7 linked regions of the Homo sapiens genome follow. The protein of the gene in region 3 interacts with the protein of the main gene of each other region in a biochemical or structural test. Each region holds a gene or a part of one and is shown on either strand. Other genes may lie near its edges.

Region 1 (4,045 bases), on a different chromosome or scaffold from region 3:
ACCCAACACTAACAATACCACACAATGTTCAGGGACTAGAAGTAAAGAGAAGTTATTCCCATTAAAGGTGATGGGGGAATTTAAGTTGGTAAAATGCAATTACCTGATTAATTCCTTCTTATTAATTGGCCTAGTTTCTCTGGTGGTTTACACCTATTGTAGATTTTTTTGGAAATTAGTTTAAACATGAATTTCTTAATATTATTGAGTGCTTCTTAATTAGGCAGCTTGACAATAAAATTAAAGTTCAATCACAATGGAATTGTGCAATCGTAGGTAAAATTTTAGAAATTTGCTTTATGTTATTAGGATAGATTTAATAATAAACAGGTTTCCTTTTTTAATAAACTATTTTATTAATTTTTGATTAGGTGATATAAGCACATGGTTCTAAATTCAAAAGGCAAACAAGCATGTTTATGGTGATGAGAAATTTTCTCTCTCACTCCCATCTTCCTTTTTCCCCTCCCCAAAAGTTACCTCTGTTGGCAGTTTTGTTTTTATTTTATTTTGACTCAAAATGATCTTGAGTCATTTTATTGCATGTCTTCTGGAAGCCATCACACTGAGACAGCAGTAACTGGAGTCTGACTGACATCCCTGGGATGTGTACAATACGTCCCTCACCAATTAGACCAAAAGATCTTTTAGGAACCCTGGATATCATTAGAGAAATAGTGTATTTCCCTATCTCTCAGAGACATGCTAATTCATCTTTGCAGAAATGCTGATTAATTCATTTTATTTTATTTTATTTTATTTTATTTTTTGAGACAGGGTCTCACTCTGTTGCCCAGGCTGGAGTGCAATGACACTATCTCAGCTCATTGCAACCTCCGCCTTCTGGTTCAAGCTATTCTCATGCCTCAGCCTCCCGTAGCTGGGATTACGAGCACGCACCACCATGCTTGGCCAATTATTGTATTTTTAGTAGAGATGGGAATTTGCCATGTTGGCCAGGCTGGTCTCGAACTGGCCTCAATTGATCCGCCTGTCTCAGCCTCCCCAAGTGCTGGAATTACAGGTGTGAGCCACCGTGTCTGGCTCATTTTAGAAATAGTTTATTTTTGGCCTGGCATGGTGGCTCATATCTGTAATCCCAGCACTTTGGGAGGCCAAGATGGGTGGGTCTCCTGAGGTCAGGAGTTCGAGACCAGCCTGGCCAACATATTAGTCTGCTAATAGTGATAGGTATCTCATCATAGATTTTAAAATTCGCATTCCTATTAAGAGTAAGGGGGAATATCTTTTCACACATTCACATGGTGAAACCCTGTCTCTACTAAAAGTACAAAAATTATCTGGGCATAGTGGTGTGTGTCTGTAATCTCAGCTACTCAGGAGGCTGAGGCAGGAGAACCGCTTGAACCAGGAAGATGGAGGGTGCAGTGAACTGAGATTGCGCCACTGCACTCCAGCCTGGGTGACAGAGAGAGACTCTGTCTCAAAAAAAAGAAAGAAAGAAAAATAAAATAAGAAATAGCTTATTTTTTTCTGAGTATAGGTGTATGCCTTTTATTTACTTACTTTTGCATTTCCATTGACATATCATTCACAGAGCATAAAATTCACCAATTTAAAGTTTACAATTAAGTGCATTAACAGTATATTCACAAGGCTGTACAACCATCATCACTAATTCCAGAATATTTTCATCACTCCAAAAAGAAACCTGAGGCTGGGTGCGGTGGCTCATGCATGTAATCCCGGCACTTTGAGAGGCCAAGGCGGGTGGATCATTTGAGGTCAGAAGTTCGAGACCAGACTGGCCAACATGGTGAAACCCTGTCTCTACTAAAAATATAAAAATTAGCTGGGCGTGGTGGTGCGCACCTGCAGTCCCAGCTACCTGGGAGGCAGGGGCAGGAGAATCACTTGAATCCGGGAGGCAGAGGTTGCAGTGAGCTGAGATCCCGCCACTGCACTGCAACCTGAGCAACAGATTGAGACCCTGTCTCAAACAAAAACAAAACAAAAAGAAACCCGTACCCACTAGCACTCATTTTTCATTATACCTTTTATTTTTAGAAATAAATAATAGCATAGCATATACACTAATCTTCACCTTGCTCTTTTTACCAAAACATGCTTCTCAGAGATCTTTCCTTATTATCATAGTTTCCCTATTCTTTTTAATGGCTCCATGTTATTCCATTATATGGATAAACCATATATTTAACCAGTCTCTCATAAATGGACATTTAGGTTGTTTTCATTCTTTGCTATCACAAACAATGCTGTAATAGATATCGTTATATATGATGTTTTCTACACATTATGTATCTATAGAATAAATCCCCAGAAGTAGAATTCCTTGGTCAAAGGTCTTAGGTGTTTTAAATGTGGGTAGATTTTGACAAATTTCTTTCCTCTAAGGTTATACCAGTGTATGTATCCACCAGCAATGAATAAGAGTATCTGTTTCTTCTCTTTCACTAGCACAATGTCATTTTTAAGAGTCTCTGCTAATAGTGATAGGCATCTCATCATAGATTTTAAAATTTGCATTCCTATTAAGAGTAAGGGGGAATATCTTTTCACATGTTTGCACTCTACTTGCATGTCTTTCTTAGAGCAAAAAGGAAATTAAGCCATCGTGCTCCAGTCTGGGCAGTAGTCGTAGTTAAAGCACAGTAAATTGTTTTAGAGTTCTTTTACTTGCCCTTTTAGTTCCCAAATTTCCTCCTTCTCTGGCCCCACCTCCAACAATTTCTTCAACCATTTTATTCCCTTGAAAAATGCACTTTGGGAAAGTATTTCTGTGAATTCTAAATGAACTCAAAAGCTTCCTAGCTTTGAGGGGCAATGGGATATTAAGCCTTGCCTGAGGTATTATTCAATGTTTAAAAGCTTAAAAACCTAATTCAGTAACTAAAAGATGCTGAGAAATCTAGTCAGAGATTTAGAAACTAAAAATAACCTTTTGCTTTCCTACAAGAGGTTTAAGAATAAATTTTTGGAAACCACAAGAAACAGACGAACAAATTCCAAAAAACGGAGCTGACAACTTTTCAAACGTAGTTGCAAGTTGCCGATACTTAATTTTCTACTGAGGTTTGCTAGGAAGTTCACCAACTCCCAAAAGGATTATGGTAAATCCCAATTTTAGTAAATAGAGAAGGGAGAATGTTGTCTACTAAACAAATTCCTGGATAGGGACGGGAGTGGAAGATGGCAATTTTTGCAAGAAAAGTGTACGTTGCAAAGTGGCCCACATCAATGAACACAATCTTGGGCTCTGGATTTCTGACCTGCTTTTGAGCTCAGCTGTAACCAGAGATTAAACAATTGGCATCCTAAACATGACAGGGCTCCAAGTGAATTAGGCCTGCCTCTGATAAATGGGACTCAGTAACCAAAACAGTGGCTGGTAATCTTGGCTACCATTCAAATGTAAAAGTGAGACATTCAAAAGCTGACTGCAAGCTCTGAGCTTGGATGGGGCCTGCAAACTGTTGGACATCACTGGCGGATAATCTGGTTGGAGACCTTTATCAATGTTTCTGGGGGAGTGCCCAAAGTCAGTTAACTATAGGTCTTTTTTCAGAACCATTCAGTACTTTTAAGAGAGAAATCCTCTAACGTCCTGCTTAGGAAGTAAAATGTCGCTGCTGTCAATCTGAAAGCTGTGCAAAAAAGGGGGTCCGAGGAGTTTCAGTTTTCAATATAATACCTCACTCTTTATCTCTACTGAGCCTGATGTTTCTAAGTCTGGAGACTCTCTGATTCAGTTTCTCTAGAAAGTAAATTGATAGGACAGTGTCTAACTGATCCTTATACAGACTGCCAGTCAATGCTGTTGTTCAACAGCATATTTCACATTTGCTTTCAGAGATACATGGTTATTCCAAATTACTGAGACTTAACTTGGGTTCTGCAGCAAGAATCAGAATGCTTCCCGATAGTATCTCCCTGCTGCAGGTACAGAGGTTTCATTTCATGATGCTGCTAAGTTGGTTTCCCTGGAGGCCTCTCTCTCTCTGCCTCTCTATAATCAGTCACCAAGTCTCTAGATATACCTCCTTAAGAGCTCTCTTCATTCTCT
Region 2 (4,045 bases), on a different chromosome or scaffold from region 3:
TGATTCCTCTCTGCAAAGATGGTCACTAATGCTATTTTAGTACAATGTGATTCCCTATAATACATATCTTTATAAATGCATTTTTTTCTCCCTCACTTTTCCGGTTAATACATCTGGCAAACTCTTCTCTTCATCAACTGTTGTATAATTATAAAATTATATAATTATTTAAAAAATCATGTTTTTTTAACTGCTCTCCTGTTGATAGGCAATTAGCTATTTGTGGCTTCCTTTATTAATAAATAAGGGTCAGCACACTTTTTCCACAAAGGGCCGGATGATACATATTTTAGGCTTTGCTGGCTCTATGGTCTCTGTTGTAACTACTCAGCTCTGTGTTGCAGGAGGAAAGTGGCCGAAAATAATATGTAAATGAGTGTACGTGGCAGTGTTCCAATAAAACTTTATTTATAAAGCCTCTGTTAGAAATGGTTTTCAGAGAAAATCCCGGTCCTTGTCTCTTCCCAATACTGATAGTCCCCCTTTTCGATAAATGCTGAGAAGTGGGATTATCGGGTTAAAGTATATATACTCTTTGAATTATGCATAATACAGATGTCCACTCATTAGACCAGTGCTTAATATGGTCCTGGTAGCAAAAAGTTTTCATTTAAAGATTTATTTAAGGTTTTTGCTTAAAATGTAGGAGGAACCCTACCTGGGTCTCCAGAATCTTCAGACCCTTTCTTGGGATTAGGAAACTGGGCGTAGCCTGAGATTTCAGCGGGGACATCTCTGACTTCACTGTAATTGCTATTGGTGACAGTGTCCAGATCCGCCTTCACCTTTTCCCAGACGACTTGGTGCTCCTGCCGCCCTGGAGGCTGGGGGAGGCTGTGGGCCCTGGCAGGCCGGGTGTTGACCTGTGCTGGGTTGGTTATAACACAATGCCTGGGTTCTGTTTGTAGCTACCAGAGCTACCACATAGTTTGGGGTTGGTGTAGATCGTCTGCTTCTCTGTGATTCTCAAACCAGGTTCTGCCTCAGACACAGCCACAAAACAACCCTGTAAACTCCACCTTACGTGACGGTTTCACTGGAAGCAAAGGTTCTGATATTCTGGAAGTGGGCTTCAGTTACCCTGTAGTGCTCCTGGGTAGCCCCAAGTCCTCTGAACCCTCAGAGTTGACACCTGAGGACCATCCCTAACGGTATAGGCCTCGCCACCTTCTCACGCCCTGTTTTTATAAGGCTGGGTGGTTCCTAAAATATTAATATTTCAGCCAATCTGGTATCCTGAATGCTTGAATTTCATTACTGAGAACCCACCGATGCCATGCTCTGGGATTATTCGTGGGGCCTGCTATAGAGCAGGCTCTGGAGAGCTGAAGCAGGCCTGACCAGGAGTGTGGCCGCCCGACCACCTCTGCCCACCAGGTATGAGCTCCTGGTCAGGACAAGCAGCTGCCTCTGTGCGTTAGCTTGGGCTTAAACTGGCTCCTCCCCGCCTTAAATACTCCAGCATATTCTTTAAAGATCACAGGAAGTTGCCCAGGGGCCACTTGCCTATTTCTCTGTTCTCGCTGATGACCTCAGGACAATTTTGTTCTGTTTCAATTTGGCTTTTTGTTTGCCCCAGTCCCTGTCATCCCTGGGCCACTGTTAGGAGGTGTGAGCTTATCTGCTCGTGCCTGGGCCCCTGACTTTCCCTGCTCCTTCCAAGTGGCTTTTTAAGTAGCAGCCCCCGCTGCAACCCAGGGGAGCCTCAGCTCCTTCCTACGCTCTTGAGGCCTCTTATAAAGTGGACATGCAGGGAGAAGAGAAGCCTTGTGGCAGGCTCTTGCTGTCTCCTGTGTTAACAGAAGGATTGCAGTTTTATTATTTTGCGGTGACTTTGAAATGTGCTGTCACTCAAACAACCATGTTTTTATTGGCTTCTGCACTTGGAGGACTCCTCCATGAAGCCCGCGGACAGGACAGATGGCTCCGTGCAAGCTGCAGCCTGGGGTCCTGAGCTTCCCTCGCACCGCACAGTCCTGGGAGCCGGTGAGTGTTGCCTTCGTCAGAGAACTGAAGTCAGGAGGGACCAGGTCTGACGCACCTGTTACAACAGCTTAAAGCCTAGATTCCTCAGTAGTGAAGTTTTTATTTTTTCTAAGGTATATCTTAAAAACTAAAATCATGTTAAAGTACCCTGTTGATTCCTTCTGAGCTCTGCCTTGCCCACAGTTACATCCGGTGCCTGACATATGAATGGTACTCAGGTGTTTTTTGAGTAAATAAACATGCCCCTCCATGTGAAAAGTTAATATCCAGATTTAGTAAGACTTAAGATTTGCCCCTACAGGGTGGTGTTGTGAACCCTCACTTCTATAGGGCAGCTTCCCACTTCGTCCTCCTAGGAGGCTCCTTCCTTTTCCCCAGGCCAGTCTCACTGCCCACCCCCATCCTGTCCTCTTTTCTAGGGAATCTGTCCCTCACCCCTTCCTTCTGTCTTCAGTCTCTGTCCCCTGGATCCATCCGTCGGTATTTAGATGCGCTCAGACTCACGTTAGATACATCAGACCCTTCGTGGCTCTCCCCTGTCCTGGGCCCCTTCCTTGCCACATCCCTTTGCCCAGTTCCCTTTACCACCAGAGTGAAATAACCTGCTCCGTTTGGTGCCATGGATTCCCTACCCCACCAACCCCGTGTGTTCCTCCTCTCCCGACTCCTTTCGGCTCCATCTCTAAAGCCCAACTCTGGGTGAGGTTTCTCACAACCCCATTGCTAAATCCTGTTAGCATTCTTTGGGTTTTATTCTTTGGGTTTTGCGCTCTCCATTGCATTTAAACCTTCCAGAAGTTCTGGCCTGGGCCTCTGTGGCCCCCTGCTCCTCGGCCCCATGCTCCTCCAGTTTTCCTCCTTCTGTCTTCGTCCTTCCAAGCCTGCAGTCTGCTCGCCTCCCGTCCCTGCTGGATGCCCTTTCTAGAGGGTTTGTTTGAGCTGCCTTTGCCCTTCCCCCAGGTGGAGCCATGGCTTCTCTGTGTGCTGACTGTAACCTCCAGCCAGAACTCAACTGGGGGCGTTTTACTGCCCAGCAGCCCCTCTGCTTCAATACTTCATGTCCAGACTTGGCACAGCTAAGACTCAGCCCGACAGACAGGCTCCCCATCTTCTGCTCTGCGCCTCAGTACAGGCCCCTGCCGTCTTCCCTCTAGCGTTAGCCAGAAACCCAGGATCTTCATCTCAGCCTCTGCCTCATTCCTCATGGCCAAGGCATCCCTGTCCTGTGCCTTGTGCTTCGTTAGCTCTCATGTCCCCGCTGAGCACCAGCCTCCAACCCCACCCGGGCTCCCTCCGCCCCACTGACGCCCCTGTGAATGTGGTCAAGCCGCTTCTCTGATGCAACACGTGGCTTCCCATTGCTTTTGGGGTAAAAGGCCAGAACCCAGAATGGGGCCTGAAGTCCTGCCTGACCGCATGGCCTCCTTGCTGCCCCCGGGAAGCCCCTGTGATCCCCAGGCTGGAACAGACCCCCACTCTTATCTGAGCTCTTTAGACCTGGGTTCCTCTGCTTGCGAAACAGTTTTGTCACTAGCCTTTAAACACCTGTCTCTCCTGGACACTGGCCTTCCGCAGCCTCTGTCCCCCTCTGCCCAGTCCCTTTCCTGGCACCTTGCCTACACCAATAGTTAGTGATGGGTGTTGAGTCGCTAAAGGGAAGCTGGTGGTCTTTCAGAGTAGAATTGGAAAGCTCTTCATGAGGATATTTACCTGTGGTGCTATGTGTTTACTGCTATTAATCCAGATTTTAACTATAAATCCTTAGGTCCATGAATTTCCCCAACCGCTTGAAATCACAGGAAATAGTTATTTGATAGATGTACTGCCCAGTATGGCACCCACCAGCCCTCTCTGGATGATATTTAAATTAGTTGAAAGTGAAATAAAATTTAAAATCCATTTCCTCAGCCTTACTGGCCACATCCCAGCTGTTCAGTAGCCCGGTGTGGCTAGTGGCTGGCCTAGGACAGCAGGCAGAGAACTTTCCATGGTCACCGGAAGTTCTGTCGAGCAGTGCTGGGCTTGAGCGTCTCAACTTCCAGGCTCAGAGGCCATGGAA
Region 3 (3,500 bases):
TTCTTTCTGTATTTAGCTAAGTGTTCCTTCTTTAAAGTGCTTTAATTTTAAGGTACAGGGTCTCTAATCTGACTATGTATCAGTATCACCTGAAGAGCATTTTAAAGCTCAAGTTTCTAAGAAATATTTTCTGAAACAGAAATCTCCAGGGGTTGAGCAGGAGAAATTAAAAACAGCTCCACACAGTTTATTTTGATGTTCAGGCATAATGACTTAGGCTACAGACTAACGGTTTCTCTTATGCGATTATTGTACTTTACAGATTCTAAGCCATTAGCAGATTAAAATATACTATTTACCTCAGAAAGGTAGAGGGAGCTTGCTGCGTCTCCCCCATTACAACTGTAGCTTAACAGCTACTGCTTATATCTCTGAGAACTTCTCACACTCTGTTTTTGGCTCTTTCTAAATGCAAATTCTTTGGGATAAATATTATGTGAAAGAATTTAAACAATAAAAAATAAATTTAAATAAGTGAAAAGCAACAATTTAGAAAGTCCCTAAACAGCACATTTCAGTAGAGTACCCTTATTTCAGCACCAATGAAGATAAGAGTTAACTAAACTTGCCAGGTGAGTAAATAAGGATGGTTGGCAAGGAAGAAAAAAAAAGAAGTAGGGAAGTGAAAGAGGAAGAACAAAAAGAAGAGGAGTAGGAAAAAATAAGTGTCTGTCAATACTTGTTTCAGATGCCATGCATGTTGCTATAATGAACTTCCCTGGTCTACATTAAAAATCAGTAATCCGGCCAGGCATGGTGGTTCACACCTGTAATCTCAGCACTTTGGGAGGCTGGGGTGGAAGGATCATTTGAGGCCAGGAGTTCAAGAGCAGCCTGGCCAACATGGCAAAACCCTGACTGTATCAAAAATAGAAAAAAATTAGCTACACATGATGGTGTGTGCCTGTGATCCCAACCACTCAAGAGGCTGAGGTGGGAGAATGTTCCTTGAACCTAGGAAGTGGAGGTTGTAGTGAGCTGAGATCACGCCACCTCACTCCAGCCTGGGTGACAGTGAGACCCCATCTTAAAAAAAGAAATTAGTAATCTACAATGGCATCTTATTATTTATTTTCCCCTTTCCATCACAGATTTGTTGTTATGCTAAGAATATACTTTAAACTACTGAAATTGTCCATCTTTGAATGCCATGCTTAAAGCAATTAGTGGTAAGAAATACTTATAATTTAACTAAGAACAAACTTACCTGAACTTTAACTTCCTGGTGGCTGAGCAGAGGAACCAAATGAGGAACTATTCCAGAGTCTATTACCATCTGTATTTGTTCATTGCCAGCATCAGTAAGGTAAGAGAGGGCCCAGACTGTGTCTACCAGTATCTAATGAATAAAATAAAAATTCAAACAACTTTTAAATATTTTCTCATTTTAGTAATTCTTGACCAAACAACCATTCTAAAATTGTTCAACTACCTTCTTCCTTCTTTTCTTCTCTCAGTTTAATTCATTGGAATCTGATCGCTACGGTATTAAACATCATCATCTATAAATGTCTGTACTAAGACGTACATCTTTTAGCCATATTCAGGATTCTGATCCCAGATTAGTATCCAATCTTAGTTCACTAAGATACACACGCACACTACACAGCTCATAAAACAGGAGAAAAAGACATTCTCTTTCCCAAAGGCTGAGGGATAACAGGTCCAAAAACATTGTGGCTCATGTATAAAGCTGGAAAGACTACATGTATCCAACATGCACAGTTGTTCAAAACATCTGGGCTAGATGAATATATTCAAGGAGTTCTCTAGTATTGTAAGTACCATGTAGATATGCCTAAAGCCAATAACCCAAGTATTCATATTGTAGTATAAAATACTTTAATCTTTTCCAACCAGTTTGTTTTGCCTTACAGAACTGGAGACAACTTTTTTTTTTTTTTGAGACGGAGTCTCGCTCTGTCGCCCAGGCTGGAGTGCAGCAGCGCGATCTCGGTTCACTGCAAGCTCCGCCTCCCGGGTTCATGCCATTCTCCTGCCTCAGCCTCCCGAGTAGCTGGGACTACAGGCGCATGCCGCAACGCCTGGCTAAGTTTTGGCATTTTTCAGTAGAGACGGGGTTTCACCGTGTTAGCCAAGATGGTCTCGATCTCCTGACCTCATGATCCGCCCGCCTCGGCCTCCCAAAGTGCTGGGATTACAGGCGTAAGCCACTGCGCCCGGCCAGCAACTTCTTAAATAGTGGAAGTCCCCTACAGCTGCAGATCAAGACATTAAAATAATCATAGGTCAATCTGTGAGACCTGTAATTAAAACAAAAAATACGTACTTCACTACAGCTGCTACTTATGAAAAAAAAAAAAAAGCCTGTGTAATCAACTTCTACTAAGTAGCCTACCATTTTTTTTAACGATTACATCTTTAAGTACAACAGGCCATGTGTTTGATCTTTCCTAGTACGTTAGGTCCTAATTAGAAGTTATGACCAAAGGGCAGTATGACAAACAACTGTAACTGCTGCAAATAAATACACAAATTATTGACAAAGACATGGGAATAATAATTGTGCCTAAAACTACTTCCAAAGCCTTTCCAGAATATGAACTCTGTGTCAAGACAAGCTGGAGAAGTGTAAAACCTTTAAAACAATAAACTAGGCAGGGAGTAGTGGCTCACGCCTGTAACCCCAGCACTTTGGGAGACCAAGGCAGGTGGACTGCTTGAGCCCAGGAGTTACAGACCAGCCTGGGCAACACGGTGAAACCCCGTCTCTATGAAAAACAGAAACAATTCGGCATTGTTTATTTTTTCTTGTTTTTATGACCCTGACTTTAAAAAAATCGTAAAACTGTAAACTAATGTTATGCTTAGGACACCCAAGAGAAAATAAAAAAATAAGATAAAAAAAACCAAAAAGACACCCCGAAACTCCTAAAAGGTGAAAATAATGCTTTGCCATTGTTTCTTAGGAAATTCAAGAAAGCTCTAAGGATATTTCTAATGTAAAAAGAAGACATCAAATGAGAGTTCGCACAGGCTGGGTGTGGTGGCTCACGCCTGCAATCCCAGCACTTTGGGGGGCCAAGGTGGGTGGATCACGAGGTCAAGAGTTCAAGACCAGCCTGGCCAACATAGTGAAACCCTGTCTCCACTAAAAAATGCAAAAAAATTAGCCAGGCGTGGTGGCGGGCATCTGTAAACCCAGCTACTCGGGAGGCTGAGGCAGGAGAATCGCTGGAACCCAGGAGGCAGAGGTTGCAGTGAGTGGAGATCATGCCACTGCACTCCAGCCTGGGAAACAGTGCGAGACTCTGTCTCAAAAAGAAAAAAAAAAGAATTCACATAAAAAAATGGTATCAATATATGTGAAAAAACCTAAATTTCAATTTGCAAATGTAACTGAGTTTCTTTTCTGGAATATTAACATATGCTAAAATTTGTTGACATAGGCCAAAAATTTCAAGTTACTTGCTCATAACTGTATATAAAAGCTAGATACATGTTTTTAAAGGACATGTCACTAATATGCTCAGATCAAA
Region 4 (4,045 bases), on a different chromosome or scaffold from region 3:
ACAGCCTGGCCCACTCCAGCTTGTGAGGGGAGGCACTTGCTAGATGTCCACAGCCTAAGGAGCCGGGATCCCTGGGACGCACGCCCACTGGGTCTCTTACCGTCTCGCACAACTCGGACGAGCGGGTCCACCTGGCCAGCTCTCCCTCCCTGCACTCAGCCTGGCTGACCACGGCGCTCAGGCCCCTTCTGAAATCCTGGACCATTTCCTCTGTACGTTGCGGGTTCTCCTTCGCCAGCTGTAGTCCTTTCTGGCAGGATTGCTGTACCCAAGGAACAAAGCATCAGTACAAGCCCGGTGCTTCCACGTTCATGTCTCCAGGTGTGGGCTGGGTCTGCGTGTAGCCACTGGCACCAAGGCTCGGACGGCCCACAGTGCTGCCTGCTGCTGCCTCTCATTCTCGAGAGCAGGCACCAAAGGACCGAGGCATTTCTCTAGTTCTTTTCCAAACTATGATTTGATCTACACAGGGGAAGAACATTTTATATTTAAACATGCGAAGAAGTCACACTCTAGGATTTAGCAGGACCGAGGGAGGGATGCGTCTTGGTCATGTCCTGAGTACACGCTGCACAGGGCTGACAGCCTGGCTGCGTAACCACCCGTGAATGAACACGACTGATGAGAGGTGGCACGGGCCTCTGAGGCTCAAGCTCCAAACTATTTTCATTGTTTGGAAAAGGACATTAAAATCATTGAACAATAGATCCAGGACTTTCCATTTTGAAACTGGTTAATATGGTAAGCATATTCCAGAAATATTCTTCAGGCCAGTGGCTGCTTGGCCCCTTGAGGCTGCCTGGGAAAGATGGGGGAGCCCCTGGCTGAGCCCTGCTGGACGGAGCGCCTGTGGCTACGCGCCCTGGTGACAAGACCAAGGTTCTTATTTTGGAGGCATTTACTGCTGGATTCAGTGGAAATGTCAGAGGTAAGCCCTTCATGTTGTCGTTAAACAGCAACACCAGGGGCGACTAGGGGTCAGATGCCCAGAGATGAGAGGCCTGTTGTGAAGAAGAGAACAGCTGCCTGGATCCATGACCATCAGAAGGTACCGAATGACCCCAGACATGCAGCAGAGGAGAGACAGACCAGCACATACGCTGTCTGTAAACAGAGCCAGAGTCAAGAAGAAAATCACAGCATCTTGATTCTTAGGAGCACGGGCAGAGTCTTGCAACTGCCAGGCAAGGGGCAGGTGCGGCTTCGGCAGAGCAGAGTGGGGGTGGCGCAGAGCTGGAGCCTGGCCTCCAACTTTGTGGAAAAATCGGCTGTCATTGGTTTCAAGATTTAAATACAAAAATTCAAGTCATAAAGGTTCTATGATGAAATACACTAATAATTCTATAACTTAAGGTAGAAAGGGCTGTTTAAAAGATAAGCAAAGCTAGAGGGCAAATGACAAACTAGGAAAACAAGCAGAACATGAAGGATCCATATAACATAGACAGAAGTGATGATCAACCCTAGAAAAACTGTCTAAAGCATGAACAAGTAATTCACTACAGAAATAAAAATAATAAACGTGTGAAGAGAATGTCCAGCTGTCGCATAGAAAATCTGAGGGCACACTGTTTAGGGGCTCCATTTCCCCACGGGGCAGCCGGCGGGAGGCAGGTGCGGCTGGAGTGCCACGGCTTATGCGTGGAAACCTCCAAAAACAAATGGTCTGACCGCAGCCATCCGAGCCTAGGAATGTATCCAGAGTCAACACCCACAGGCTGTGAAGGAAGCAGAGACACAGAGATGTTCAACATGGGGAGTTTCTAACAGCAGAGAGGGGAGGAGCCCAGGGCCTTCAGTGTGGGAGCCGTGTGAACATGGCTCGGGGACTGAGCTTGCAGCGCATGCCCACACACAGGGTGCCGAGGCCGCCACATGCGGCATCCCGTGTGTAAAAATCTATTTGTTTCTAATTTTCCCACAGTGTGCATGCACTTTTTAGGTTAAATATATAGAGACAGACGTGCACCTATACATAGCAGGATCGCCTGTCCGGTCACAACGTGGAGTTTCTGGGTGAAGACTGCAGAGTGAGACGTGTCCTCTTGAGACACCACTAAAGCCCTGCAAGCATCTTCCAAGGCGTAACACTCAGCACGGTGGGCAGAGAGCAGCCAGGGCACAAACCTGGAGGCCGGGAAGGAAGCGGGAGTGGCAGGGCCTGAGGAGAGCAGAGGCCAAGTCCCGAGACTCCACAGGACAGGGTGAGGGAGTGTCGGAGGGAAGGAGCTGGGCACCCTGCTCCACAGGGCCCAGGGTCTGTTCCCTGGCAGGTGAACACTGAGCTACGGCCAGGCTCTCCTTTCAGGCCGGGATTAGAGGAAAAGAATCAGACCGCCAGGGAGAAAATGCTAAAGATGCGTGGGCCACAGGCTTCCTAGCCAGGGGTCGCCAGGAAAGCCTCTGGCGCCAGAACAAACCCACAGAAGCCACAGACTGTGCAGACTCATCATGATTAGTATGGAGAGGGGACTGTTCAGAAAATAAGCCCATGGAGTTAAAAAGCAAGAGCAGAAACAAAAAACTCAATAATAGAGTTAGAGGGTAAAGCTGAGAAAAATCTACCTTACAAGGACAGCACACAGCCAGGGGTGGGGAAAATTAAGGCAACAGGACAGAAAACTCCAGAACCAGATGGAAGTGTGGAGCTGTGGGAAATGCGAGCGCCACGAAGGATGTCACAGAATTCCCAGAACAGAGGGGCGCAGTGCAGACACAAAGAGCACACCTGCCCTCGGTGCACCTGGGCGACCCTCAGGCACACCTGCCCTCAGTGCACCTGGGCGACCCTCAGGCACACCTGCCCTCAGTGCACCTGGGCGACCCTCAGGCACACCTGGGCCACCCTCAGGCACACCTGCTCTCAGTGCACCTGGGTGACCCTCGGGCACACCTGCCCTCAGCGCACCTGGGCAACCCTCAGATTCCAGAGCCCCGAGGACGACAGGAAAGTCTGTGGCTTCCACCGAGAAGCAGGGCACAGGCAGAAGGCTGGGAGTGGGATGGAAGCTAAGCACAGGCGCAGGGCCTTCCAGCTGGCGAAGGGAAACTAAAGTGACTGCTGGCCATGAAGGTGGAGTAGAGATGCTTTTAGATACCACGGCCTCAAAAATGCTCACCCCAAGATCCCTTTCTCTGGGAAGTCCTGGAAGTTATTCTGCATAAAACGCCAAAGTAAATGAAAAAAGAGGAAGACTTGGATACAGGAAATAGGAGACCACAGGATGGGGCAGAGTGGGGAGGGAGATGGAGGAGACCCCAGGAAGAGCAGAGGGAGGAGGGGAGATGGGGGAGACACCCCAGGAAGGAGTAGAACGAGGAAGGGAAGACGAAGGAGACCCCCCAGGACAGGCAGAGGGAGGAAGGGGAGATGGGGGAGATCCCCCAGGATGGGCAGAGGGAGGAGGGGAGATGGGGGAGACCCCCCCAAGGACGGAGTAGAACGAGGAGGGGAAGATGAAGGAGACTCCCAGGACGGGCAGAGGGAGGAGGGGGAGATGGGGGAGACCCCCTGGGATGGGCAGAGGGAGGAGGGGAGATAGGGGAGACCCCCAGAATAGGCAGTGGGAGGAGAGATGGGGGAGACTCCCAGGACGGGCAGAGGGAGGAGAGGAGAAGGAGGAGACCCCCAGGATGGGCAGAGAGAGGAGAGGAGATGGAGGAGACCCCCAGGATGGGCAGAGGGAGGACAGGAGATGGAGGAGACCCCCAGGATGGGCAGAGGGAGGAGAGGAGATGGAGGAGACCCCCAGGATGGGCAGAGGGAGGAGAGGAGATGGAGGAGACCCCCAGGATGGGCAGGGGGAGGAGGGGAAGATGGGGGAGACCCCCAGGATGGGCAGGGGGAGGAGGGGAGATGGAGCCAGGATAGAGCAGAGGGAGGAGGGGAGATGGAGGAGACCCCCAGGACAGAGGGCACAGACTGGAGACAGCCCGGACTGGCTGGTGGCTGCAGCTTGGCCTGGACTCCACTTGCCTGGTGTGGGGTTCCTGTTCCTGCCCCAGGGATTGGACCAGCTGGGCCCCTGGCCAATATTTGGGAGCT
Region 5 (4,045 bases), on a different chromosome or scaffold from region 3:
CTGAGCTTAATAAGGTATCTTATGTAAATTGCTTTGTATAATATAATAGCATGCATTTCAATTTGTCTAAATCTTTGCATAACTGCCAGAAACAGAATCTGTGAAAGAGGGCCACCTGCTGTTTATAATTAAACAATGTATCAATTCTGTAATGTTAGTATACACAATCCCAGCTTTTGGAGCAACTAAGAAACAAAATATGGATATGGTTCATTGTGCTGAATTATTCACTGACTCTCCCCCACCCCCCCACCCCCCCAAGCACAAACACAAATCTAGTCTCTTGATTCCTCTACTTTTCCACCAGCTGGACTAGACCAAAATGGGTGGGCCTGGTCTTAGAACCGGGAGGAACTCCACTTCTGCCTCTACCACAGAAGTTTGAAGAGTACCTTGGGTAGTGGTAATAAATTACAAAACTGAAGTTACTTCAAACTGGTCATGACAGTCATTAGTCTTTCAGTATTCAATTCCTGGGTTTGATTTTTTTTAACGCTGGAAAGAAGCTGAGTGCAGTAGCTGACATCTGTAATCTCAGCACTTTGGGAGGCCGAGGTGGGAGGATTGCTTGAGCTCAGGAATTCGAGACCAGCCTGGGCAACATAGTGAAACCTCATCACTGCCCAAAATACAAAAAATTAGCCAGGCATGGTAGCACATATCTGTGGTCCCAGCTACTCAGGAGGCTGAGGAAGGCAGATTGCTTGAGCCTGGGAGGTGGAGGTTGCAGTGAGCCAAGATCGTGCCACTGCCCTCCAGCCTGGGTGACAGAGTGAGATTCCATCTCAAATAAATAAATAAAAATGCTGGAAAGAAACTTTTGGTTGTAATATGGTAGAGTAAATATTGCTGTGTTCATTAGAAATGCACATATTTCCAATAAATTCGAACATCTAACTTACAGTGGCACAAACAAATAGGGGTTTATTTTTGTTACATAACAAGAAGCCTAGAAGAAGGTAGTTGCTGGCACCAACTCATTTATCTAACAGTTTTTCAGGGACCCTAGCTGTCTTCATATTTCTGCTCTGTCACTTTTAACACTAGCATTTGGCCTCATGCTTACCATCACTTAATGGTCAGAAGATGGCCAGATATCATATTAGTGTTCAAGACTGGAAGTGAGAAAAGGTGAAACTAAAGTAATCTCCCCTATCCTATCAGGAAAATAAAAGCTTCCCCAGGAACCTCCTCCCCGAAATATGCTTATTTCTCCCTGGCCAGAATTCTGTTGCATAGTTAACTCTAGAACAAGGAAGCCTGGAAAAGAATTTAATTAGATATATTGCCAGTATGAACAAAACCAACATTTTGTCGGGAGGAAAGAAGGGTAGAATAGACACTGGGTTGGCAGCTAAAAGTGTCTGCCAGTGGTATTTCCCCTGTGGGGGAAATCACACAAAAACAAGAAAAATGAGAAACATTTATACAAACTTGATATTCAACAACACTAAGAGATATTTATAACTCTGACCACATTAAAAAAACTATCAAACATGATCAGCGTATAACCTGAACAATACCCAAGGAACTGACCAAACACCAAGTCCTACCAGAAGCTACATTTTTCAACAAAGCTAGAAGGGGAAATTTTAAAGCAAGCTTATCCACCCTGCAGCCTGCAGGCCACTTGCAGCCCAGGACAGTTCTGAATGTGGCCCAACACAATCTTGTAAACTTTCTTAAAACATTGTAAGATTGTTTTGTGATTTTTTTTAAGCTCATCAGCAATCGTTAGTGTTAGTGTATTTTAGTGTGGCCCAAGACAATTATTCTTCCAATATGGCCCAGGGAAGCCAAAAGATTGGATACCCCTATTCTAAAGTAACAGGCATATCTTAAGGGGGAAAAAAACTACAGTATTTGTTATTTAAAGCAAAGAGAAAAGGGTGTGCTGACTAGACGTGAGAAACTGCTTATATAGGCATTTGTGCTGCAACATAACATATGAATGTATTAAAAAAACATGCTTTCTGCAAAACTGCAGAAAAGTGACAGGATTTATGGGGAAAATACGGTTAAAGGGTGGACTATTTTAACACCTACACAACTTTGTCACTAGAGCATTATTAAAACTATAACAACTCCCGGCTGGCGCACGGTGGCTCACGCCTGTACTCCCAGCACTTTGGGAGGCTGACGCGGGCGGATCATGAGATCAAGAGATCGAGACCATCCTGGCCAACATGGTGAAGCCACGTCTCTACTAAAAATACAAAAATTAGCTGGGCGTGGTGGCGCTTGCCTGTAAATCCCAGCTACTTAGGAGGCTGAGGCAGGAGAATCGCTTGTACCAGGGAGGCAGAGGTTGCAGTGAGCCAAGATCCTGCCACTGCACTCCTGCCTGGGGACAGAGTGAGACTCCGTCTCAAAAAATAAAAATAAAAATAAAATAAAATAAAAAACACTATAAAAACTCTAGTAAAAATATAAGACATTAATAAATCTTACTTTAAGTATAGGATTTTACCTTAGAAAGGTGATGTTATCTTGTTAGAAACAAGTGTGAGGAAAGGGGGGGCAAGGGTGGAAGGATATAATCATCAAAAATTCAAAGGTGGGTCGGGCACGGTGGCTCACGCCTGTATTCCCAACACTTTGGGAGGCCGAGGTGGGCGGATCACGAGGTCAGGAGACTGAGACCATCCTGGTTAACACGGTGAAACCTCGTATCTACTAAAAATTAGCCGGGCGTGGTGGCGGGCGCCTGTAGTCCCAGCTACTCGGGAGGCTGAGGCAGGAGAATGACTGAACCCCGGAGGCAGAGCTTGCAGTGAGCCGAGATCGTGCCACTACACTGCAGCCCAGGGGACAGAGCGAGACTCTGTCTCAAAACAAACAAACAAACAAACAACAACAACAACAATTCAAAGGTGGAAAGATATAATCATCAAAAATCCAAGTGAAGACGCTTGAACATTTGATGTTATATTCTTCCACCCTTGGATATAGTGATACTACAAGAAACATGATGTGGGTTCCCGTTTATCATCTTGTTTTTATTTATTTGACACTGGCTTATAAAAAGATACCCAGTGTTTGCTGTTTTAACACTTTCCTTCTTTCATAAAGAAGCTGTTTATATGGGTCCAATTAGGGCTTTATGTCATGAAGTGAAATCATGCTGCGTTCTGCATTGTAGTCATTATCTTTTATCTACTCCAACTGCTTCTCTATCATACTTGAAGCAGAAGATAACTGAGAAGTGAAAAGCTCTTGGGAGGCAGCTTGTAGCTTGTGGAACTGCATGTTCTTCTTCCTCCACACCTTCCATTTGTGCCTCAGCAACTAACTTGCAGCTCTTCTGTAGAAAGATCCTGTGTGTCAGATTGCAGCAGCTCCGCATTATCCTCACTAGCAACTTCTTCAAATCCAACCCCCTTTGCAAGAGCGATACAGCTTGGGTTGGTTTTGGGGAGATCTTCTGAAGGCTCAAAGGCTTTGGAATCATAAATTAAATCAGGGAGAATTGTATATCACACCCCGTGCAAACAGGCTTTTGTGAAATCATTCCAGGCCTCTACAATAATATCAATAATAAGTTTAATGTTGAATCATTTACAGAATTCAAAAAATGTTAGGGCACTGTCACCCCCTGTATAGGCAACCAATATCTTGAATGTTTGCTTTAAATAATAAGCTTTAAAGATTGCAATCACACCATGATTAAGGGGCTGCAGTAAAGAAGTTGTATTGGGAGGTAAAATGAGAACTGTGATATTTGAGGAAAGCTCAGTGACTACTGGAGGGTGGCTTGGTGTATCACTGAGAATTATAAGAATTTTAAAAGACAATTTTTTTCTCTTGCAATGTTTTATTTTTTTTTAATCTACAAAAAAATCACCCGAAAGATCAGAAAATATCTGCCCTGTCATCTAGTCTCTCTTGCTAGACCTGTAGTAGGCACCAAGGCTAGTCTTTACAATTCATTTTAAAGCTTATAGATTGGCAGAATGATAATCACAGGCTTTAGCTTTAAAATTCCACTGGCATTTGCACCCAGCATCACCATCAGTTGATCCTTTGTAGCCTTAAACCCCACAGT
Region 6 (4,045 bases), on a different chromosome or scaffold from region 3:
TCAGCCTCCCGAGTAGCTGGGATTACAGGCATGCACCACCATGTCCAGCTAATTTTGTAATTTTAATAGAGACAGGGTTTCTCCATGTTGGTCAGGCCGGTCTCGAACTCCCGACCCCTCAGGTGATCAGCCTGCTTCGGCCTCCCAAAGTGCTGGGATTACAAGCATGAGCTACTGCGCCCGGACTTCTTTTTTTTTTTTTGAGATGGAGTCTCGCTCTGTCCCCTAGGCTGGAGTGCAGTGGCGCGATCTTGGCTCACTGCAAGCTCCGCCTCCCGGGTTCAAGCCATTCTCCTGCCTCAGCCTCCCGAGTAGCTGGGACTACAGGCACCCGCCACCACGCTTGGCTAATTTTTTGTATTTTTAGTAGAGACGGGGTTTCACCATGTTAGCCAGTATGGTCTCGATCTCCTGACGTCGTGATCTGCCCATCTTGGCATCCCAAAGTGCTGGGATTACAGGCATGAGCCACCGCGCCCAGCCCAATTCTGATTACTTTCATGTGTTTGAAATTCTCCATGAAAATTTCAAAATAGATGTGATAAGGAAACACCCATCAGGCCGGGTGTGGTGGCCCACGCCTGTAATCCTAGCACTTTGGGAGGCTGAGGCGGGTGGATCACCTGGGGTCGGGAGTTCGAGACCAGCCTGACCAACAGGGGAAACCCCGTCTCTACTAAAAATACAAAATTAGCCAGGCGTGGTGGCGCATGCCTGTAATCCCAGCTACTTGGGAGGCTGAGGCAGGAGAATCACTTAAACTTGGGAGGCAGAGGTTGCAGTGAGCCAAGATTGCGCTATTGCACTCCAGCCTGGGCAACAAGAGTGAAACTCCATCTCAAAACAATACAAAAACAACAACAACAACAACAACAAAAACCCACAATCTGTTTTTTCAACTACACTCCTCTGTACCTTGGAAACTCTGAGATGCGACAATCCCTGCCTCCACACCTCCTTGCCCCATCCAAGCCTCTGGGAAGTGTGGAAGAGGCAGTGCTGGCAAGGTGAGGGGGAGACAGAAGTCAGGGAGATGGGTGAAGACAGCAGGCCTCCTGGATCAGCCTCAACCCAGGGACATCCTTGACCCACTCACTTCCCAGGACAGACACTTGATGACATCGGATTCAAGGAAGCAGCCAGTGGCGTGGACAGGCCCACATGAGGAAGCTAGAGTCCTGGGTCTGGGCCTCAGCTCTACCTGTGGGCTTTCATCTCCCCACCAGTAAGTACCATGGGGGCATGGAAGTGGATTATCTTTGGGGCCCCGCCAATTAATTCTGTCTTTCAGGGACCATGCAGACTTTCAGACCCAGCCTTACCCGGAAGGAGCCCCAGAGGAAGACACGGCCATCATCGGTGAGGGCTGCTGTGTGACTGTCTCCTGCTGACACCTGTACCACCTTCTCTTGCAGCTCCACTTTCCCAGGGACCATCTCCGAGCCCTCCACTGATGTGTCCCTTCCCAGGGCACCCTCATCATTGCAGCCGAAGGAATAGACCTGTGCCCAGGATGCCCTCATTAATGCAACGTCTGGCCTCGCAGTCCATTCTCATGTAGGCCACTCCCCACTTGACTAGCCAGCTCCATTTCCACAGTGAACATGCGTGGTTCAAAAGCCCTGCCCCAAGCCACCCAACCCCAGGCCTTGTCCAACCCTGTGCCAGTCCCCAACACCTACCTGGCCACTTTTGCTTAGACACACGGTGTGCATGCCCCCAGCCTCAGCCTGCACAACATCCTCCGGAATGGATACCAGGGCCGGCTTCTTCCTCTCCATCACATTCTCACCCAGCCCCAGCTGGCCCACGTCGCCCTGGCCTAGTGTCAGCACCAAGCCGGGTTCTGTGCTGTGGGACCTGTGTGAGACTGAAGGGTGAAGAAGATAGACCCTGAGTGTAGAGGATGACGACAGCGAGGAGAGGTCACAGGCTCTGGGATCAGACAAACCTGTGCAGAAGCCCCTGCTCTGCCACAGACTGTTAGTATGAACTTTCTAAGTTTTGTCATCTGTGAAATGGGGACAACAAAAGTACCTCTCTCACAGGATTTTTGTGGAGATTAAGAACTGAGCACATTATTCACGTGAAAGGGGAGAAAGGGAAACAAGGAGACACTGGATACTGTGAAATGAATCTTGGTGGAGAGGGCAAGAAGGGCTGGGTGCGGTGGCTCACACCTGTAATCCTAGCACTGTGGGAGGCCAAGGCGGGCGGATCACTTGAGGTCAGGAGTTAAGAGACCAGCCTTGCCAACAGTAGCCTGTAATCTCAGCTACTCAGGAGGCTGAGGCAGGAGAATCACTTGAACCTGGGAGGCGGAGGTGGCAGTGAGCCAAGATCGTGCCACTGCCGCCTCCAGTCTGGGCGACAGAGTGATACTTGATCTCAAAAAAAAAAAAAAAAAGAAAAAGAAAAGAAAGCTAATTATTGTTATTGTTATTTTGAGACGGAGTCTCCCTTTGTCGCCAGTCTGGAGTGCAGTGGTGGATCTTGGCTAATTGCAACCTCTGCCTCCCGGGTTCAAGCGATTCCTCTGCCTCAGCCTCCTGAGTAGCTGGGACTACAGGCGCGCGCCACCGCGCAAGGCTAATTTTTTGTATTTTAGTAGAGACGGGGTTTCACCGTGTTAGCCAGGATGGTCTCGATCTTCTGACAGGCGTGAGCCACCTTGCCCCGCAGAAAGCTAATTATAATAGCAGAATCTGCACCGAAAGCAAGGGAGACTACGTGGGTCAGAGAACAATCCCCAGTCTCCATCCAAGCCCTCCTCCATGCCCAAGCCGTCCGCCAGTGAATAAGTTCAGCTCCCGGGCAAATCCACTGCAGAAACGGACTCTTCCCTCCACCATCCAGTGGAGAGGCAGGAGGGGCGGGAGGAAGAGCGGACAGCGGCATTTGCGGGAGGTGCGCGCCCGGGGCTCTCTGTGGGCCAAAGGCGGCCCCCCAACCCGCAGCCCCGGGCAGCCAATGGCGCCCAGCCCCTCCCCCGAGGATGTGGCCACCGCTGAGGAGCCCGCGCTGGCAGCACAGAGGGCGCCCCGGGCGCGGAGCCACCTGGTCGGGTTTTCTGGTCAGGAGGGCTCGGCCCGCAGGCACCTTGGCAGGAGCGGGCGCCAGGAACGCGGCGGGAGGCAGCGGCCCTCGTGTCTGCAAAAGACAGACACTGTCTGAGCGTGGGTCCACACTTCCCCTCCCAGTTTGGTGCTGGCTTTTCTCTCCTCCCTGTCCCCCTCCGGGGTCCCAGGACAGAGGAAACCACAGCCACCTCCCTCAAATGCTGCCAGGCCATTATCTCATCTCATCCTCACACAGCCCAGAGAGGGTGACGCTGCTCTGGCTGCCGCCATTTTAAGAAGTTGATAATCCAAACTGCGGGATTAAGTGACTTGCCCAGCAGCTAGAAAGTGGCAGAGCAAGGACTTGAACCCATGTCGGAAAGTCAGTGGTCCTAACCATAATGCATCACTGCCTGGGGTGAAGCCCTAGGGTCTAGTTTTTTTTTTTTTTTTTTTGTGCCAGTGCTGCCTGAGTGCTTTGAGAGGAGTTTCTGCCCACTTTGTGATTCCCAGAGGGTAGGATTCAATGAGCTACAGGAAACCTTCCAGCTGGGTGGGGTCTCTGCACATCCACACCCTTCAGCTTCAAGCCTCAGGAAGAAAGGAGCCCAGTCCCGGGTTCTTAGGGTTTCAAGGGGCCACCTGTACCCACAAAGAGGCCAAGGCCAACTTACCCTTCACCTTCTTGCTTTTGGGGATGGCATCTGCTGGGGGGGACCTTCTTTTAGCTATGCGCTTGGGTGACATCTTCCTGTCCTGAAAGTCAGTCAAATACTACATATGAGAAATGGCAAACATTTTCCTGGGCCAATCAGACAATATTTATCAAACACTCTAGAAATACGTTAAGAGGAATTGCCCAACAATTCCACTTCTCAAAATGTATCCCAAGAACAGAATAATGGATGCACCCACAGATTAATTACACAAATATTCTCTACTGTATCCTTCATAACATTTTAAAAACAACAAAAACAGAACCCGAA
Region 7 (4,556 bases), on a different chromosome or scaffold from region 3:
AAATTAGCCAGGCATGGTGGCACACACCTGTAATCCCAGCTACTTGGGAGGCTGAGGCAGAATCGTTTGAACCCAGGAGGCGGGAGGCTGCAGTGAGCAGAGATTGTGCCACTGCTCTCCAGCCTAGGTGACAGAGCGAGACTCCATCTCAAAAAAAAAATTTAACTTGAGCTGAGTCTTTAGGGAAGAAGGTACAGTCTGTGTGAAGGCATAACATACATGATTAAGTGGTTACTGAGAGAGAGTTAACAGAATATGGAGATATTCTGACATAAGACAGAAAAAAATTACAAAGTACTGTCCTGGGCCGGGCATGGTGGCTCACGCCTGTAATCCCAGCACTTTGGGAGGCCGAGGCGGGTGGATCACAAGGTCAGGAGATCGAGACCATCCTGGCTAACACGGTGAAACCCTGTCTCTACTTAAAATACAAAAAAAATAATTAGCCGGGAATGATGGCGGGCGCCTGTAATCCCAGCTACTCGGGAGGCTGAGGCAGGAGAATGGCGTGAACCCAGGAGGCAGAGCTTACAGTGAGAAGAGATCGCACCACTGCACTCCAGCCTGGGCGACAGAGCGAGACTCCATCTCAAAAAAAAAAAGTTCCTGGACCCACCTCTCAAACTACCCATTTCCCAATAAGATGTGACCTCCAAAGGGGCTTAACAGATTTAAAAACATCAAATAACACAATCAGGGAGGGAAAGACAAAACGTATTTATTCCAGGCCAGGTCTTAAAATGCACACTGCACGGTTCCCTGTTGTTATCAGCACCAGTAAGGAAAGAACGTGCCTTAACGGCAGCCCCACCCAGAGCCTGCTGCGTGGCTGCTGTGAGGCTCCCCATGAATCCACGCAGTCTTCTTCCTCACTGGTGCAGTTGGTGAGGTTTTCTACCCTCACAGCAAAGGGATCCTTAACTATAAATTCACGGTATGCAGAGAAGAGGACAGAATCTGATTTACTGATTGTTCCTCATTTAAACCATGACTTAATCTCTATCTTAGGATTTAACTATCTTTATTTTCTGGTTAAAATTTTTAAAAAAAGTGGGGAGAGGGTGAGAGTCGTAAGGGGCAATAGCAATAGAGATTACACTGTGCTGACACAGAGACTAAATTCTAGTCAGAGTGAAGACCCATATAAAAGGCCGGCTGATGGTTTAAAGGAAGTAACTACATGGAGTCTAATCGAGACATTCATGAGTTACATCTCATTATTAGCCTTAGTAATGTAAGAAAACAATTCTCAACAAAACTGGAGTCCACAGTTGTCAAGTATGCTTTCTCAGGCACGGGTAGGTAAAAGTCTGGAGAAATGGGTTCTCTCCATGCCCAATGACAAAGCAAGACGGTCCTAGGTTTGAGGTTAAGAGCAGGTCCCATTGCCGGGCGGTATCCGCAGCTCACAGCTGAGTTTAGCAGTGGAATCGAGTGGAGAATTTGGGAGATACAGGCACAGTCAGAGGCTGGTCACTTGACTTTATCTCCAGACCCTGGTACTTGCGTATTGGATTTGCCTTATGCACCTGCAAAGTAAGGAAAAGTTACCAGTGAGAGGGATGTCAGAGAACTACGCTTATAATTGCTTTTATTTTTTTCTTTTTGAGAAAATGTTTGTAGAGTTTTACAGGTCCCAGTCACTAGTTTCAGGTGTGGGGAGTGGGGCCTGGGGGGCAACACGGTATGATGGAAAAGTGTATGTGCTTTGGAGCCCAAAAGGGTTTCTATTCAGGTCTCTATTGGGTCCCCCAGCTTTCCTTTAGGCCACAGTCTCCTCAAGTCCCTCAGCTTTCACTAAAGAATGCCAAACCTATGTCCTGTGTGATTTACTAGGGTATAATAGGGCTGTACTCAAGTATAGCAGAGAAGTTACAAGCTAAGAATTTCCCAGAGTACAGTCTTAAGTTTACTGACTATAAATATTCACCAAAAGCCTGAATCCTGGGGAAAAAGCAAAAACAAAACACAACAACCATACCAGGAAGGGTGGCTAAAGAAGGCATGGTCCCATCCATCCTTTAGGGTAGTCTAAAATCAATCCTAAATCAAGCCAGATTAGTAGAGAGTTAACCAGCATTGACTGAATTGTGCTTTACAATGTTGCCATCAGTTATGTTGAGAATTGCTGCAAGAAGCAGTTCTATAATGGGGACAAACACAAGAGGCAGGTACCAAATGCTAAAGAAAAATCAAAGTTGAGGCCGGGAAAAAAGGCTGATTGTATGAGTGTATATAGAGTGGGGATTATACTATTTTCTCATTCACTCAGCAAATGGTAGTCTAGATTTTACCAAGAGGCTGGTCTCCTAAATAGTGTGTCCGTGGAACCTTCCTATGGGCATAATCACCTATGCCAATAGCTGCCAATAGCTGTTTCAACTGCTAGTCTAGCATTTTATTTATTTATTTAAAATAGAGATGGGACTTTGCTATGTTGCCCACGCTTTTCTTGAACTCCTGGGCTCACGCAATCCTCCCACCTTGGCCTCCCAAAGTGTGAGGATTACAGGTGTGAGCTGCCACATCCAGCTGTAGTATAGCACTTTTAGACAAAACCTCAACAACTTACACTTCTTTTTTTTTTTTTTTTTTTTTTTTGAGACAGTCTCGCTCTGTCACCCCCAGGCTGGACTGCAGTGGCACAATCGGCTCACTGCAACCTGGGCCTCCCAGGTTCAAGCAATTCTCCTGCCTCAGCCTCCCGAGTAGCTGGGATTACAGGTGCGTGCCACCATGCCCGGCTAATTTTTGTATTTTTAGTAGAGACAGAGTTTCGCCATTTTGGCCAGGCTGGTCTCCAACTCCTGACCTCAAGTGATCCACCCACCTGGGCCTCCCATAGTGCTGGGATTACAGGTGTGAGCCACCATTCCTGGCCTTCTTTCTTTTTAATTGACAGATAACACTGTATATTTTTATTGTGTACCGCTGATGTTTTAAAGTAGACATACATTATGGAATGGTTACTATGTGAGATAATGCATTTGTTAATTAGCAAGATGCTAATTAACATTGTAGTGTGAGCACATAACATCCACTTATTGTAGTGTGAGCACATAACATCCACTTTCTTTACAGTTTTCAAGAATACAATATATCATTAACTACAGTCACCTTGTTATATGATAGATCTCTTGAAATTTACTCCTCCCATCTAACTGTAACTAAGTAACCTTTTACCAACATCTCCCCATGACCCTTTCTTTTTTTATTTATCATACGAAGTTCCATCTAAAACTGTCTGCTTCTTCATTAACACAGTTAACACAACTTGCTGCCCTCCTAGCAGATTGGTCCTTAATGTGGAGTTCAGGTTTCTTTTTGGATAACCAACATCTAAATAATTATGTTAGTAGAGGATTACCTGGAGCGACGAACACTGTAACTCCAAGGAGTTTGGGCTCAGTATTAAAACAAAAATACAGTTGCCATTTAATTCCCATGTCCTTCGCTATGTATTCTTGTCTAATTACAAAACTCAGTGGTGCTTCTTAACCCCAGAGGAAATAATAAGTTACATAAATAAAATAAACAAATAAATAAAAAACAGTCCTAGGAAAGGCATCATGGTTATACCACATGTTGTCCTCCTTATGAAAACTTCCGGAAGAAATTCTGTCTAAAAATTCACTATCAAAGGGATAAATGTATTTTTTGAACAACTGTCTTATGTCTCATGAACACTGCGAGTTTTGTAACTGACAGGTTGGTTCCTAAAAAGGGCCAAAATTACAGCTCCTACTTAGATCACAATGTACACATCGTTAGCTTCATTCACAACTCAACTTCATCACCACCCTCAGTTTGTGCAATTCCCCCTTTCACTCATTGTCTTTGGTACAGCCTTGCGGGCTACCTTAGATCCTGTCTGGTACAAGGTAAGGTACAGGTAAAATAAAACAGAGGCATGTTTGTGTTCGTCAGTGCTCATGCTCCCAGTTACCAGTTCTCTCCGTAGCCTGGCCAGCTCCTCTTTTTTCTGCTCTTCCTCCTGTAGTCTGGCCTCCTCCAACTGCTGGGCTTTCTGGGCTTCTACCTCAGCCATTCTCTTCTCCAGCTCCTGCCGCTCTTTGGCTCTCTTCTCAGTAGCCAGCTGAAAAGGTTCCTGAACTAGAGAACCAGAAAGGCCCTCTAAGTACAGAAACAGAAAAAATATTGGTGCACAAGCAGGACTTGCATAAACCTACGCCCCCTGGAATGAGCAAGTGGCACAGACATGCACACTAACAGGAAGACTGTGCTCTAAACAAGCCCCATTGGGAGAAAGGTAGAGCCAACTAAATACAAAAAGTTTTAGAATTTTAAGAGTTCAAAGGGCCCCTGGAAATCGTCTGGTGTAATTGGGAAAAAGGCAAAGACATAAAGTAGCTTGCACAAAACTATATAGTGATTGATTTTGAGGCAGACATAGAAGAAAGATCCCAATATTCTTTTTTTCCCTTTTTGGAAAGATTTTTTTGAAAAAGAGATGGGGTCTTGCTATGTTGCCCATGCTGGTCTCAAATCCCTGGGCTCAAGTGATCCTCCTGTCCGGGCCTCCCAAAGTGCTGGGA

Evidence for each region.
Region 1: the proteins of KPNA4 (region 3) and ZRANB3 interact in a test that uses a peptide from one of them, tested with the Homo sapiens proteins (one study listed by BioGRID).
Region 2: the proteins of KPNA4 (region 3) and HJURP interact in a test that uses a peptide from one of them, tested with the Homo sapiens proteins (one study listed by BioGRID).
Region 4: the proteins of KPNA4 (region 3) and PLEKHG4B interact in a test that uses a peptide from one of them, tested with the Homo sapiens proteins (one study listed by BioGRID).
Region 5: the proteins of KPNA4 (region 3) and SCAND3 interact in a test that uses a peptide from one of them, tested with the Homo sapiens proteins (one study listed by BioGRID).
Region 6: the proteins of KPNA4 (region 3) and RCC1 form a complex in vitro, tested with the Homo sapiens proteins (one study listed by BioGRID).
Region 7: the proteins of KPNA4 (region 3) and TPX2 interact in a test that uses a peptide from one of them, tested with the Homo sapiens proteins (one study listed by BioGRID).

What each region holds. Positions count from the first base shown.
Region 1 is NC_000002.12:135,209,583-135,213,627, forward strand, and holds part of ZRANB3 (DNA annealing helicase and endonuclease ZRANB3), read right to left. Parts: intron 1-4,045. UniProt on the Homo sapiens protein: DNA annealing helicase and endonuclease required to maintain genome stability at stalled or collapsed replication forks by facilitating fork restart and limiting inappropriate recombination that could occur during template switching events.
Region 2 is NC_000002.12:233,847,704-233,851,748, reverse strand, and holds part of HJURP (Holliday junction recognition protein), read left to right. Parts: exon of another isoform or gene 1-1,889; coding exon 1,890-1,986; intron 1,987-4,045. UniProt on the Homo sapiens protein: Centromeric protein that plays a central role in the incorporation and maintenance of histone H3-like variant CENPA at centromeres.
Region 3 is NC_000003.12:160,520,572-160,524,071, forward strand, and holds part of KPNA4 (importin subunit alpha-3), read right to left. Parts: intron 1,340-3,500; coding exon 1,208-1,339; intron 1-1,207. UniProt on the Homo sapiens protein: Functions in nuclear protein import as an adapter protein for nuclear receptor KPNB1. Binds specifically and directly to substrates containing either a simple or bipartite NLS motif.
Region 4 is NC_000005.10:158,000-162,044, reverse strand, and holds part of PLEKHG4B (pleckstrin homology domain-containing family G member 4B), read right to left. Parts: intron 263-4,045; coding exon 101-262; intron 1-100. UniProt on the Homo sapiens protein: Guanine nucleotide exchange factor (GEF) which specifically activates small GTPase CDC42 by exchanging bound GDP for free GTP.
Region 5 is NC_000006.12:28,580,551-28,584,595, forward strand, and holds part of SCAND3 (SCAN domain-containing protein 3), read right to left. Parts: intron 1-4,045.
Region 6 is NC_000001.11:28,529,628-28,533,672, reverse strand, and holds part of RCC1 (regulator of chromosome condensation), read right to left. Parts: intron 3,816-4,045; 5' UTR 3,807-3,815; coding exon 3,734-3,806; intron 3,151-3,733; coding exon of another isoform or gene 3,058-3,150; intron 1,871-3,057; coding exon 1,683-1,870; intron 1,503-1,682; coding exon 1,323-1,502; intron 1-1,322. UniProt on the Homo sapiens protein: Guanine-nucleotide releasing factor that promotes the exchange of Ran-bound GDP by GTP, and thereby plays an important role in RAN-mediated functions in nuclear import and mitosis.
Region 7 is NC_000020.11:31,797,943-31,802,498, reverse strand, and holds the end of TPX2 (targeting protein for Xklp2), read right to left. Parts: intron 4,135-4,556; coding exon 3,947-4,134; intron 1,530-3,946; coding exon 1,419-1,529; 3' UTR 699-1,418; downstream 1-698. UniProt on the Homo sapiens protein: Spindle assembly factor required for normal assembly of mitotic spindles. Required for normal assembly of microtubules during apoptosis. Required for chromatin and/or kinetochore dependent microtubule nucleation.